3 linked regions of the Homo sapiens genome follow. The protein of the gene in region 1 purifies or fractionates together with the protein of each later gene. This does not show direct contact. Each region holds a gene or a part of one and is shown in the gene's direction. Other genes may lie near its edges. The genes, in order: RALGPS2, CREB3L2 and NADK.

Region 1 (3,746 bases):
ATATAGCCAACGACATTTTCCTTAATCTCTTAGTAACACTTTAAGAAGACTAAACATTTACCCAACTCAATAACTGGAAGGGGTTTTTCCTCCAAGTGCTAATTCATTTAGTTGTTGTTTATTTGGGACTTGAAGCAACTAACATCTATGCGAAAACTTTCTGTATACATAATGCACTTCCCTCCTTTTTACCAATCATCTTCCTTTTTCTTTTCTTTTTTGGACTCTTGTCATTTGAAATATTGGGTGGGGGGGAACGCTTTTTTTCTTCTTTTGATTGCTCTACTTCTTCTAGTGATTTCGTCATGATTCAAGACTTTCTTTGAAAGTAAAATGGAATAAAAATGAAACACTACGAACTTTGTTGCCTATCCTCGCTGTTTTTCTTTTTGACTTAACTTTGCGTTGGGGTGCTTTAAAGTAACCCTATTTGAGAGAAGGAGGTTGAAGGGCATTCTAGCGTCCCCAACTAGAGTAAAAGGGCTATGACAGAAGGCAATCAAAGGAGGAAATAATTAGCAATCTTCAACGTTCAAGATTAATCAGTTCTGTTTAGCGGTTATTAAAGGGAAGAAAGAAACCAAATGGGAATAGTGAATTATTGGTCCTTTCATGTTTTACACTTAATGCTGGTACATAGTATTCTTTCCACATTCTACTGCACATTGCCTAGAGAAAGAACTGCAGATCATCAAATAATTATCCATTTCCAAATGGTCTAATGACAGCAGATACAAAGGCGGCTCACTTAAAACCTTCCGTTAACAGTCACACTGCATCAAATGGTGCTAGCTTTAAGTAGGCCACCCATTTAGTAGACTCTGAAACAACACCTTTCCGCCCAATTTCTGTCATTTGCTCCTTAAGTCAAGGGTAGTACCCTGCGTAACATCTTACAAAGGCCTACTTCTAACACTTCCCGAATCTTAATGTGTGAGGATGTTGATCACCATAATTTATGACCTTATCTAAGACAGTGGGGTGACTCTCCACATTGGGAGCCCCCTCATTTGTCCTCAGTGACTTCTAAAAACACCGCTGGCGTGGGCTGGATATTTGATCTTGGGGCCAAGTGCTTCCAGACTTTGTTCTCTGGCCTTAAAGGTGAAGAGCCCGGCGCTGAAGGCCACAGACATCACGGCGGATTTCACAGAGGGCCGCGTTCCGGGAGCGGGTGGCCAGGCGGTGGCGGACGCCCCACCTGTCCATCCTCCTACCCCTTCCCCCCCCCGTTGTTTGGCCGGTGGGAGCCCCTCCTTTCAGCAGGCGCCGGGCGGTGGGGTTGCGGATGGCTGCGCGCGCTGCGGGCACCGATCACCGGCGGCAGTTGGGCTCCGCGGGGCCGAAAAGCTGCGGGCGGGAAGCGCGAGGTTAAGACCCTGACGGCTGCAGCTCTCAGAGCCCCCGCGAGCGCGCTCCGTTGGTGCGCGCGCGCGCGCGGCTCCGCCCCGCCCGCTTGGCGCGCGCCCCCGCCAGGTCCGCTCTCGTCCCCCACCCCTGGCGCGGACGGGGTGGTTCCAGCTCACTCTCCTCCCCCGAGCGGCAGCGGCGGCGGCGGCGGCGGCTGCTGCGGGCGCTGAATGAGAGACGGTGACTGTTCGGGTCGACGAGTGCTACTCTAGGCGGCGGCGGCCGTGGCGGTGAAGCGTGAGGCCGGCATCGTCTTTCCGTCCTCTGAGGCGACGGCCGCGGCTGCACAGGTCGGTGGGCTCAGGCCGCGGGGCGGTGCGGGGGAGGGAGGGAGGGAGGGTGGGTACGCGGCGCCCCCCGGGCGGCGCGGGGAATGGCGGCGGCGGCGCTGCGGAGTGTGGCTCTCCCGGCCGCGGGCCCCGGGGCTGCTCGCCCTGCGCGCAGGGAGGGGGCTGCGGAGCTGGGGCTGAGGCTGAGGGAGAAGGGCGCTGGGCGGCGCGCCTCCCTCGGCCGCGGGTTCTCAGAGTCGGAGCGGCCGTGGGGTCCCCGCTCGGGGGCGCCGTCCTGAAGCCGGGGGCGCTGCGACCCCTTGAACCCGCCTCGCTCTCCCTCTTGGGTGGCGGAAGCCCCCAGCCTCCGCCCGCTCTGTTCTGGCGCCCAGCGGCGCCTCAGTCTTCCTTCAGGTGAGCCCGATCCCGGACCTCGGAGCCAGGACCAGCAGAAGCCGGGCCACACCCCCTCCCCTGGCCCTGGCGGCTGCGCCCAGAAGCCTGGCCGCAGAGTTGGCCGCCCGCGAACCCGCGGAGTCGCGGTCAGGGTGACCTGTTGCAGAGCGGCCCGCAGCCCGAGCGGCCCCCGCCAGCCCCGGCCCCGGAGGGGCTGCGTCCTGTGCTGGCCTCGGGCCGGGCGCGCGGGCCGGGTGTGGGGCAGGGGCCGCAGCCCCAGGTCGGCTTGCTCTACGGCCTGGAACCGGGCTCTAGAAAAAAAAGGAGATTCCGAACGTATCTCATCAAACACTTGCAAAGCCGGGAGATCTGTCTGCAAATATCCGGAATTCCATTGCAGTATCGGATTAGGTAGGCTCATAAACACCGTGCTTTTGAGGTGATTTGGAAGAAACGCGAGCCACGAGCGAGGAACTAGTTTCTGGAAAATAGCCGTAAACCTGTGCGGAGCGAATTATTAACCCCCCGCCCCAGCTCCCCCCTCGAAGCTCTTTTCCTGTAGCTGTGTGTTGTGTAGACGCAAGCCAGTTTCAGTGTACGTGGGCGTGTTTGGGAAGAAGCTGCGAGCTGATAGGAGGTACCTAGTACAAATGTTAATTTGTTTGAGTTGGGAGGGGTAAGGGAGGAGGAAGAAAGGGCACTGATGTTAGCTGTGGAGGAGGGGCAATTGAAATACTAAATTTCTGTTAAAAAAAAAAAACCCCAAAAGAAATATCTAATGCCTACTGTGTATTTAAGACCATAAAGTGGAATCACACAAGCAGCAGTTAATTGAGCTTTATCGTTTATGCTCCCTGGATTTTTTTTCCCCAACACTTTAGTTGCTATAGAGAGCCTTTTCTTACCAGTGTTCATGAGTTGACTTGGGTATTTTTCTGTGTCCACCATTAGATCGATTCCTGTTCAAGTTTCTTTGAAGATGACCATCAGAATTTTAGGAAACTTTTCAGCCCGTGTTTGCAGAGTATCGCTGTTAGACAGATCATAGCTTGCTCATTATAAAGCCTGTTCCACTCAAGATCATTATGCTTGTACAAGTGCTATAGAACAAGTGCTATAGAATCATACACATAAGTGTATTACTCTTACGGCTAAATATCTTAATTTAGAATTATGAGGAAACTTCCAAAACTGAGCATCCAAACAGTATTATTTTAACAAAGATAACCTCTAACTCAAGCTTTGTAGGCATGAAGTTTATCATGTAGCTTCAAAGGTCTTTTGAGGCAGATCTAAATATCAAAATGTAAGGGCATTAATGCCATTTGGGATAAACAATTTCAGTGTATTTATTTTAAGCGTAGTTCATTTTTTCTTTTTAAAATTCAGCATAATTTTTGAACGGTAAGATGTGCGTTTTTCCCATTATATTCCACTTTTTTTTTTTTCCTTTTAAGATAGGTTCTCCTTATTTGGCTCAGGCTGGTCTCAGACTCCTGAGCTCAAGCGATCCTCCCGTGTCAGGCTCCCAAGAAGCTGGGACTACAGGCATGCGCCACTGTGCGTTATTTCACTTTTCATTGAATTAAGGAATTTGACTTTTAGTAATACTTTGGGGCAGGACTCTGGAAATACTGTTTAGTTTGCCTAAATTTTTTCAGATTGCAACGT
Region 2 (3,646 bases), on another chromosome or scaffold:
GTGGCTGTCTAACATTGTTACATCACAGCACACATTTTCCGAGAATCCTTGAGACCCAAGAGAAAGCATCTGCTCATAAAATCTTTCCACTTTGCCATATGCACTGGGTTTGGGGGTGGGGGATGAGGATGAGGAGGAGCTTCAACTCTTTACACCACTCACAGGGAACTCTTCCCGGGTGCTCTAACTCAGGAGGGTGTGTTGTCAGATCCTTTTCTATGCCTTGCAGTGTTCAGAATTTGCAAAGAATTTTACCATCTGCTCTGTGTGCTGATGTCACACAGAGCAGAGTATATAAGACTGTTCTTATCCCTCAAACTTTGCCTTTTAAGGAGAGGCACAGTTGTCCAATTTTAGGGATAAAACGTCTCCTTTTTTTTTTTCTGCTCTTGCTCTCTTGTCTTTTTCCTGGAGAAAGGCTAGAATCTGTTTCAAAGGATGGTTTTAAAGACCCTTGACTCTGGGCTTGAGGGTCCAGTTGAGCAGGCATCTTTGTTCTTTCATATGTTGGCTTCGTTTCCTGACTCTGGAGGTGCTGTGAGCGTTTAAGAACCACAGGCTTGAGCTGCAGGTGGCTGTTTGCCTCTCTGCCTTAAACAGAGCCGTTCTTGTTTTTCCTCTCCTTTCTCTCTCTCTCTTCTAACCTGCCTGTGAATGCCTGTTACTCTGTGTTGGCATTTCCAGTCACAGCCCCCACCTCTGGCCTTTCTCTCTCTCTTCTAACCTGCCTGTGAATGCCTGTTACTCTCTGTTGGCATTTCCAGTCACAGCCCCCACCTCTGGCCACTCCTTCTGTTGTTCTCTGCTGGTCATTTTTTATTTTTCCTTCTCTTTGCCTTTGTCCCTTTTTTATGTTTTTGTCAATGTTTCTCATCTCTTGCTTAAATGAGTTCTTCTTTTAATCGACATTTTCTTAGTCTGTTCAGGTTGCTATAACAAAATGTAATAAACGAGGTCACTTACAAACAACAGAAATTGATCTCTTACAGTTCTGGAGGCTGGGAAGTCCAAGATAAAAGTGTTGGGAGATTCCGTGTTGGGCGAGGGCCTGCTTTCTGGTTCACAAAAAGCAGCTTCTTGCTGTGTCCTCTCATAGTGGAAGGGAAGCACTCTAGTCTTTTCAGCTCCTTATAAGGGCACGAATCCCATCAATGAGGGCTCCATTTATGACTTAATCATCTCCCAAAGGTGCTGCATCCTAATACCGTCACATAGAGGACTGGGTTTTAGCATAGGAATTTAGGAGAGACACAACCATTCTGACTTTAGCCACCATCCAATCAGAGTGTTCCTTTTCCTTTGTTCTCAATCGCTGAGAAACAAGCCACAGCCTGTCAGGGGTAATGTGGAGGCAGTTACCTCTAACTCAGGGCAGTGCAAGAACAGGACTTTCAAGTGTGAAGGCTGATTCTGAGCCCCAGTGAGCTCTGTGACAATGGTGCTAGAAGGTACTGGTGTTCGTATCTTCTTCCAGAGGAAACTGTCCCTTGGGGCTCTGTTGAAATGCAGGCACAAAGGCACGGCGGCCTTCTTGGGTCACATGGAGAGATCAAAAAGCATCTCTTCTCTGTCAGACTCCCCTCACGGCTGTTGTTATCATTGGCAGGACTCTCCTTCAGCAACTCCAGAAGCTTCAGACTTTGGTGATGGGCAAGGTTTCTCGAACCTGCAAGTTAGCTGGCACGCAGACTGGCACCTGCCTCATGGTGAGCTTCCCAGCAGGGTAGCACAGTGACCGCCCCTGGCCTGGCCCCTGTCTCCCCTCTCCCTCCACTTGCCAAGGCCAAGTGCTGTGCTGTAGGAGAAACCACATGGAGGAACTCCACTCTGAGGCTGTTCCTCGGTGAGGCACTCTGGTGATGTGACTGGTGGGTGCAGTCCACTGGCCTGAAGAGGAGAGTCTGTGTCCCTGGGTATAAAGCTGTGCTGTCCAGAGGCTGAAGTCCACAGCCCCTCGTGTTCTCTCTCCCCTCTTTCTCTCCCACAGGTTGTGGTGCTGTGCTTTGCCGTTGCATTCGGCAGCTTCTTTCAAGGCTACGGGCCCTATCCTTCTGCCACCAAGATGGCTCTGCCCAGCCAGCATTCCCTGCAGGAGCCCTACACAGCCTCCGTGGGTAAGACAGCATGTGGCAAGTTGGGCAGGGTCTTGTTTTATTTCCCTAGAGCTGGGTTTCTCAGTCTTCCAAAAGGAATCTTCTGTGAAAGTCCAATGTTTAAAAAGTGGTAAAAGTGGAGCTTCTCCCTTTGAAGAGGCAAGTGGGGGTTCCCCTGGGGCCCCTCATCCACTGGACTGCGGCATCACTGGGAATTCTCCAGAGCTTGACAGAGCACAGTTTGCAAACTGCTGTTCTAGACTGTGTTCCCTGATCCATTCTGACATCTAATTTTTGAGTTCTGATAAGGGAGAGGGAAGCAGATGAGGGAAAGAGTCTGTCGCTTTCTGTGACGTTTTAAGAGAACTGCTGTGTTTCTGCCTCCACTGAGTGGAATTGTATGAGTAATGTAATGCAATGTATATAGTAAGGGCTTGTAAAGTGAAATTAAATAAACAGCAAGGTCAGGGCCGGGCGTGGTGGCTCACGCCTGTAACCCCAGCACTTTGGGAGGCCGAGGCGGGCAGATCACGAGGTCAGGAGATTGAGACTATCCTGGCTAACACTGTGAAACCCCATCGCCACTAAAAAATACAAAAAAATTAGCCGGGCGTGGTGGCAGGTACCTGTAGTCCCAGCTACTGGGGAGGCTGAGGCAGGAGAATATTGTGAACCTGGGAGGCGGAGTTTGCAGTGAGCCGAGATCGCACCACTGCACTCCAGCCTAGACGACAGAGCGAGACTCCATCAAAAAAAAAAAAAAAAAGAATCAGCAAGGTGAGGAGTTCAAGACCAGCCTGGCCAATATGCTGAAACCCCGTCTCTACTAAAAATACAAAAATTAGCTGGGCATGGTGGTGCATGCACCTATAGTCCCAGCTACTTGGGAGGCTGAGGCAGGAGAGTGGCGTGAACCTGGGAGGCGGAGGTTGCAGTGAGCCGAGATCGTGCCACTGCACCCCAGCCTGGGCGGCAGAGCAAGACTCCATCTCAAACAAACAAACAAAAAGAATCAGCCTGCCTTCCAAAACCTTATGCCCAAGATCTAGAGAATATGGGGACTCCGGTGTCAGATAAGAAGCGTATGGTGTTCTCACCTAGAAATAAAGGGATGGTGAGTAAGGAATACACACACAAATTCACACCTACACCTATAGGAATGAGCATGGGGTTAGGCAGTACAGTAGTCCCCCCTTATCTGAGGTTTTGTATTCTAAGCTTTCAGTTACCTGTAGCCAATGAACATACCTGCAGTTACCTTAAAATAGCTGAATACACTATAGTAAGAAACACTACCTGCAGCCAATAAAAATACCTGCAGTTATCTGAAAATAGCTGAGTACACCACCATAAGAAATTTTGAGAGAGAGAGGCCACATTCATGTAACTTTTATTAGAAGATATGGTTAGAATTGTTCTATTTTATTATTATTGTTAATTTCTTACTGGGCCTAATTTCTAAATCAAACTTTATCATAAGTACATATGTATAGGAAAAGGCATATGAACCCTACATGCTATATGCCCATATATAAACCCTGTATGGTTTTTCC
Region 3 (3,646 bases), about 180 Mb from region 1:
ATCAGCACAGAACCATCTAACTGGCGCCTACGCTGACCCTTGATGTTAGACTGAAGCGCACTTGGAGAGGAAACTTTTTTTTGAGACTGAGTCTCGCTCTGTCCCCCAAGCTGGAGTGCAGTGGCGCAATCTTGGCTCACTGCAACCTCCGCCTCCCAGGTTCAAGTGATTCTCCTGCCTCATCCTCCCAAGAAGCTGGGATTACAGGCGTGCACCACCATGCCCGGCTAATTTTTGTATTTTTGTAGAGACGGGGTTTCACCATGTTGGCCAGGCTGGTCTTGAACCCCTGACGTCAGGTGATCTGCCCGTCTCAGCCTCCCAAAGTGCTGGGATTACCGGTGCAAGCCACTGTGCCTGGCCTGGAAACATTTGCTCTACAGAAGTCACTGGGGTGTGAGGGGACATCCCTCTTGGCTCTGCTTGTTTTGAGAGGCGAAGGCTGGGGGGTTCTGCACTGTGAGCAGGGCTGGTGGAGGCAGAGTTATGAGCGTGGCCTTGGGCGGGCCCAGCCCTCTCACATGTTGGGCAAGTGGCTCCCTCCTGTGCCAAGAGTGCCCACAGCGCTCACCCTTGCACAATGCTGCTTGGGCAACAGCGCCCCGGGCTTTGCATGACGGTGGCCGCACAAGCACAGCTGTGATGGTGCCTGGGGATGGTGCTCTCGGTTCTGGTGATGGTAAATGTGGTGAGTTTTAGGTGGAAGCTTGCCAGAGCCGGCGCTGCCTAACAAGGATCACGACTATCAAATGCAAGGGGGGCTTTTTGGTGAAAAGTAGTCTTAGAAAGCATGTTGTCTTACCCAGTGAGATGGGAGAGCCTGTAGCGCCTCTGACGTGGTGGCAGCCGTGGAGAAACAGGCTACTCCCACGTTTTCTGTCTACAGAGTCGCTGCCTGAGCCAGGAGGCTACGAGCGCTGGTGGCTGCCTTCATCCCGCAGGCACCACGTCACCACTCAGCCTTTCTCAGATGCCTCGTTGCCTCGTTGTCAGTGGGGGTCGTTGTCCTGTACCTCCAGGCCACCCCAGCGCAGTGACTGCGTGAACAGAATTGCTTTGGGGTTTTATTTTTTTTTCCTGTGGGTTCTTTGGCATAATGCACCATTTCTGTTGCATTCTGAACCTGATGACAGCAGCCCTGGGTCAGAGGTCGCCTCCATAGTGAGTGACAGGCGCCTTCAGGGTGAGGTGGGGGAGGAGGTAGCCAAATACGCCCAAGCATAGCCTGTCCTTGGGAAGGAAACATTAAATCCCAACACCCACTTCGAGAAACATTGTTTTCCGCAATAATCTTTTCAGTTCGTAAGTAAGTAAAATTCTTTTGTAATGTACTTCGTTTTCTTCTTCTTTTTTTTTTTTTTTTTGAGATGGAGTCTTGCTCTGTCGCCCAGGCTGGAGTGCAGTGGTGTGATCTAGGCTCACTGCAAGCTCTGCCTCCCGAGTTCAAGTGATTCTCCTGCCTCAGCCTCCTGAGTAGCTGGGATTACAGGCATATGCCACCACGCCTGTCTAATTTTTGTATTTTTAGTAGAGATGGGATTTCACCATGTTGGCCAGGCTGGTCTCGAACACCTGACTTGAGGTGATCCGCCCACCTCAGCCTCCCAAAGTGCTGGGATTACAGGCGTGAGCCACAACGCCCGGCTAATTTTTTGTATTTTTGTGTAGAGACAGGGTTTCACCGTGTTAGCCAGGATGGTCTCAATCTCCTGCCTCGTGATCCGCCTGCCTTGGCCTCCCAAAGTGCTGGGATTACAGGCGTGAGTCACTGCACCCGGCCTGTACTTACCAATTTTTAAAAGGCTGAGGTAAACAAGTCCGTGACCACTGATGGCCACGCCTGTGTCACCTGTGGAGCAGCCCTCAGGGCACCACGGCTCTCCTGGGGTTGTCTGGCCCTGCGAGGCAGCGGAAGGCCGTTCTTCTGCATTGGGACTTGAGGATTTTGTTGGGCCGTTGCCTGGCCAGCTGTGTGCAAGTTTTCTGAGTTTGTGAAGGGACTGGGAGGCTCCCGGGCACCTAGGACGAGGGCAGCCTCAGTGCTGGACCCTGAGGAGCACAGCGGTCCTGACAGCATTCTCCCCAGGACGCGTGCGGCTGCCACAGCCCCTGGCTGGGTGATTTAACTGTGACCTGGCCATGTTTAAATCACTAGGAAAGTTGTTGAGCCGTTCATCTGGCGTCTTTTATTCATTCATTCATTCATTCATTCATTCATTCATTTTGAGACAGAGTTTCACTTTTTTCAGCCAGGCTGGAGTACAGTGGCTCGATCTCGGCTCACTGCAACCACCACCTCCTGGGTTCAAGCAGTTCTCTTGCCTCAGCCTCCTGAGTAGCTCGGACTGCAGGCACACGCCACCAGGCCTGGCTAATTTTTCTTTTTTTAGTAAGGATGGGGGTTTCACCATGTTGGCCAGGCTGGTCTCAAACTCCTGACCTCACGTGATCCACCCACCTCAGCCTCCTGAAGTGCTGAGATTACAAGTGTGAGCCACTGCGCCCGGCCTACGTCTTTTTTATTGACATGAGTTCAGAGTGAACATTTGTGCTAGAATTTTAATCTAGACGATTTAGAGATGAGATGTTGTCTCAGGTTTTGAGTCCCAAATGCAGATCTAGAGAGGGGTCCTGGAGACACTGAGGAATTCTGATCCCAGGCTGGCCCTGGCCCTGGCATTTTCCTTGTTTGGGCTGAAGCTCTCCCCGGCTTGGGTCATGATCTGAGCGGCGCGTGGGCATGCGTGCTCCTCACAGGTGCCGCTCCAGTGCAGCCATGGACCTGGGCAGAACCTTCCAAGGGCTATTGTGTGGCTGCTGGGCAGATGGAGTTGGCATCTTTCAAATTGCATGTATGCCTTACCGTGTAACCTCCTCTGTATCTGTGTCTGTCACTGCATGTCTGGTTTCAGGCCCTGGTGGCTCTGACACTGCCCTCTCCCCACAGGAGGACACGCTCTCTTCATGGGCCATGCCCGGTGACCACTTTTGGACCAAAGGCCTGTGTGCTGCAGAACCCCCAGACCATCATGTGAGTGCTGGGGCCCCAGGACGGGGGGTTCTTGGAAGGGAGAGAACCCCTAGACCATCATGTGAGTGCCGGGGGCCATGGGATGGGGGAGTCCTCGGGATGTGTGTGGAGTTGTGGGATCGCTGTGTTGAGGAAGATTCTAGCACTTCATGTGAGAAGTACATGTTTAGGTCATTTAAACAAAAAGCCACATGGGCGTCCTCCCTGAACCCCCTGAGTGCAGGCATCCGAGCGGGGGCTCCCCAGCTGTGGCTTTTCCAGTGGCTTTGAGAAAGTGGACGGCAGGCGAGCCGGGGCCTGGAGACCGGGTCACAGCCCGTGGGTGTGGCGGCTTCCACATGAGATCCTCAGGGCTGCCTTTTTGTTTCTTTAAGAGTGAGTGAGAATTCTGGGGTGGGTTGCGTTTGCTATTTGATGGTTCAGTTTGTCAACACATTCTGCCTGGAGGCCCGTCATAGTGTCATGGGAAAAACGCAACAGTGATCGATCTGATATCTGTGTTTTATGTGTAAAGAATTATAATCCAGGCTGGGCGCAGTGGCTCACACCTGCAGTCCCAGCACTGTGGGAGTCCGAAGCAGGCAGATCACTTGGGCCCAGGAGTTTGAGACCAGC

Evidence for each region.
Region 2: the proteins of RALGPS2 (region 1) and CREB3L2 purify together in Homo sapiens (co-immunoprecipitation; one large-scale study listed by IntAct). This does not show direct contact.
Region 3: the proteins of RALGPS2 (region 1) and NADK purify together in Homo sapiens (affinity purification with mass spectrometry, with the first as the bait; one large-scale study listed by BioGRID). This does not show direct contact.

What each region holds. Positions count from the first base shown.
Region 1 is NC_000001.11:178,723,720-178,727,465, forward strand, and holds the start of RALGPS2 (ras-specific guanine nucleotide-releasing factor RalGPS2), read left to right. Parts: upstream 1-1,524; 5' UTR 1,525-1,700; exon of another isoform or gene 1,701-2,565; intron 2,566-3,026; exon of another isoform or gene 3,027-3,746. UniProt on the Homo sapiens protein: Guanine nucleotide exchange factor for the small GTPase RALA. May be involved in cytoskeletal organization. May also be involved in the stimulation of transcription in a Ras-independent fashion.
Region 2 is NC_000007.14:137,883,463-137,887,108, reverse strand, and holds part of CREB3L2 (cyclic AMP-responsive element-binding protein 3-like protein 2), read left to right. Parts: intron 1-1,606; coding exon 1,607-1,706; intron 1,707-1,987; coding exon 1,988-2,114; intron 2,115-3,646. UniProt on the Homo sapiens protein: Transcription factor involved in unfolded protein response (UPR).
Region 3 is NC_000001.11:1,761,337-1,764,982, reverse strand, and holds part of NADK (NAD kinase), read left to right. Parts: intron 1-2,947; coding exon 2,948-3,031; exon of another isoform or gene 3,032-3,090; coding exon of another isoform or gene 3,091-3,092; intron 3,093-3,646.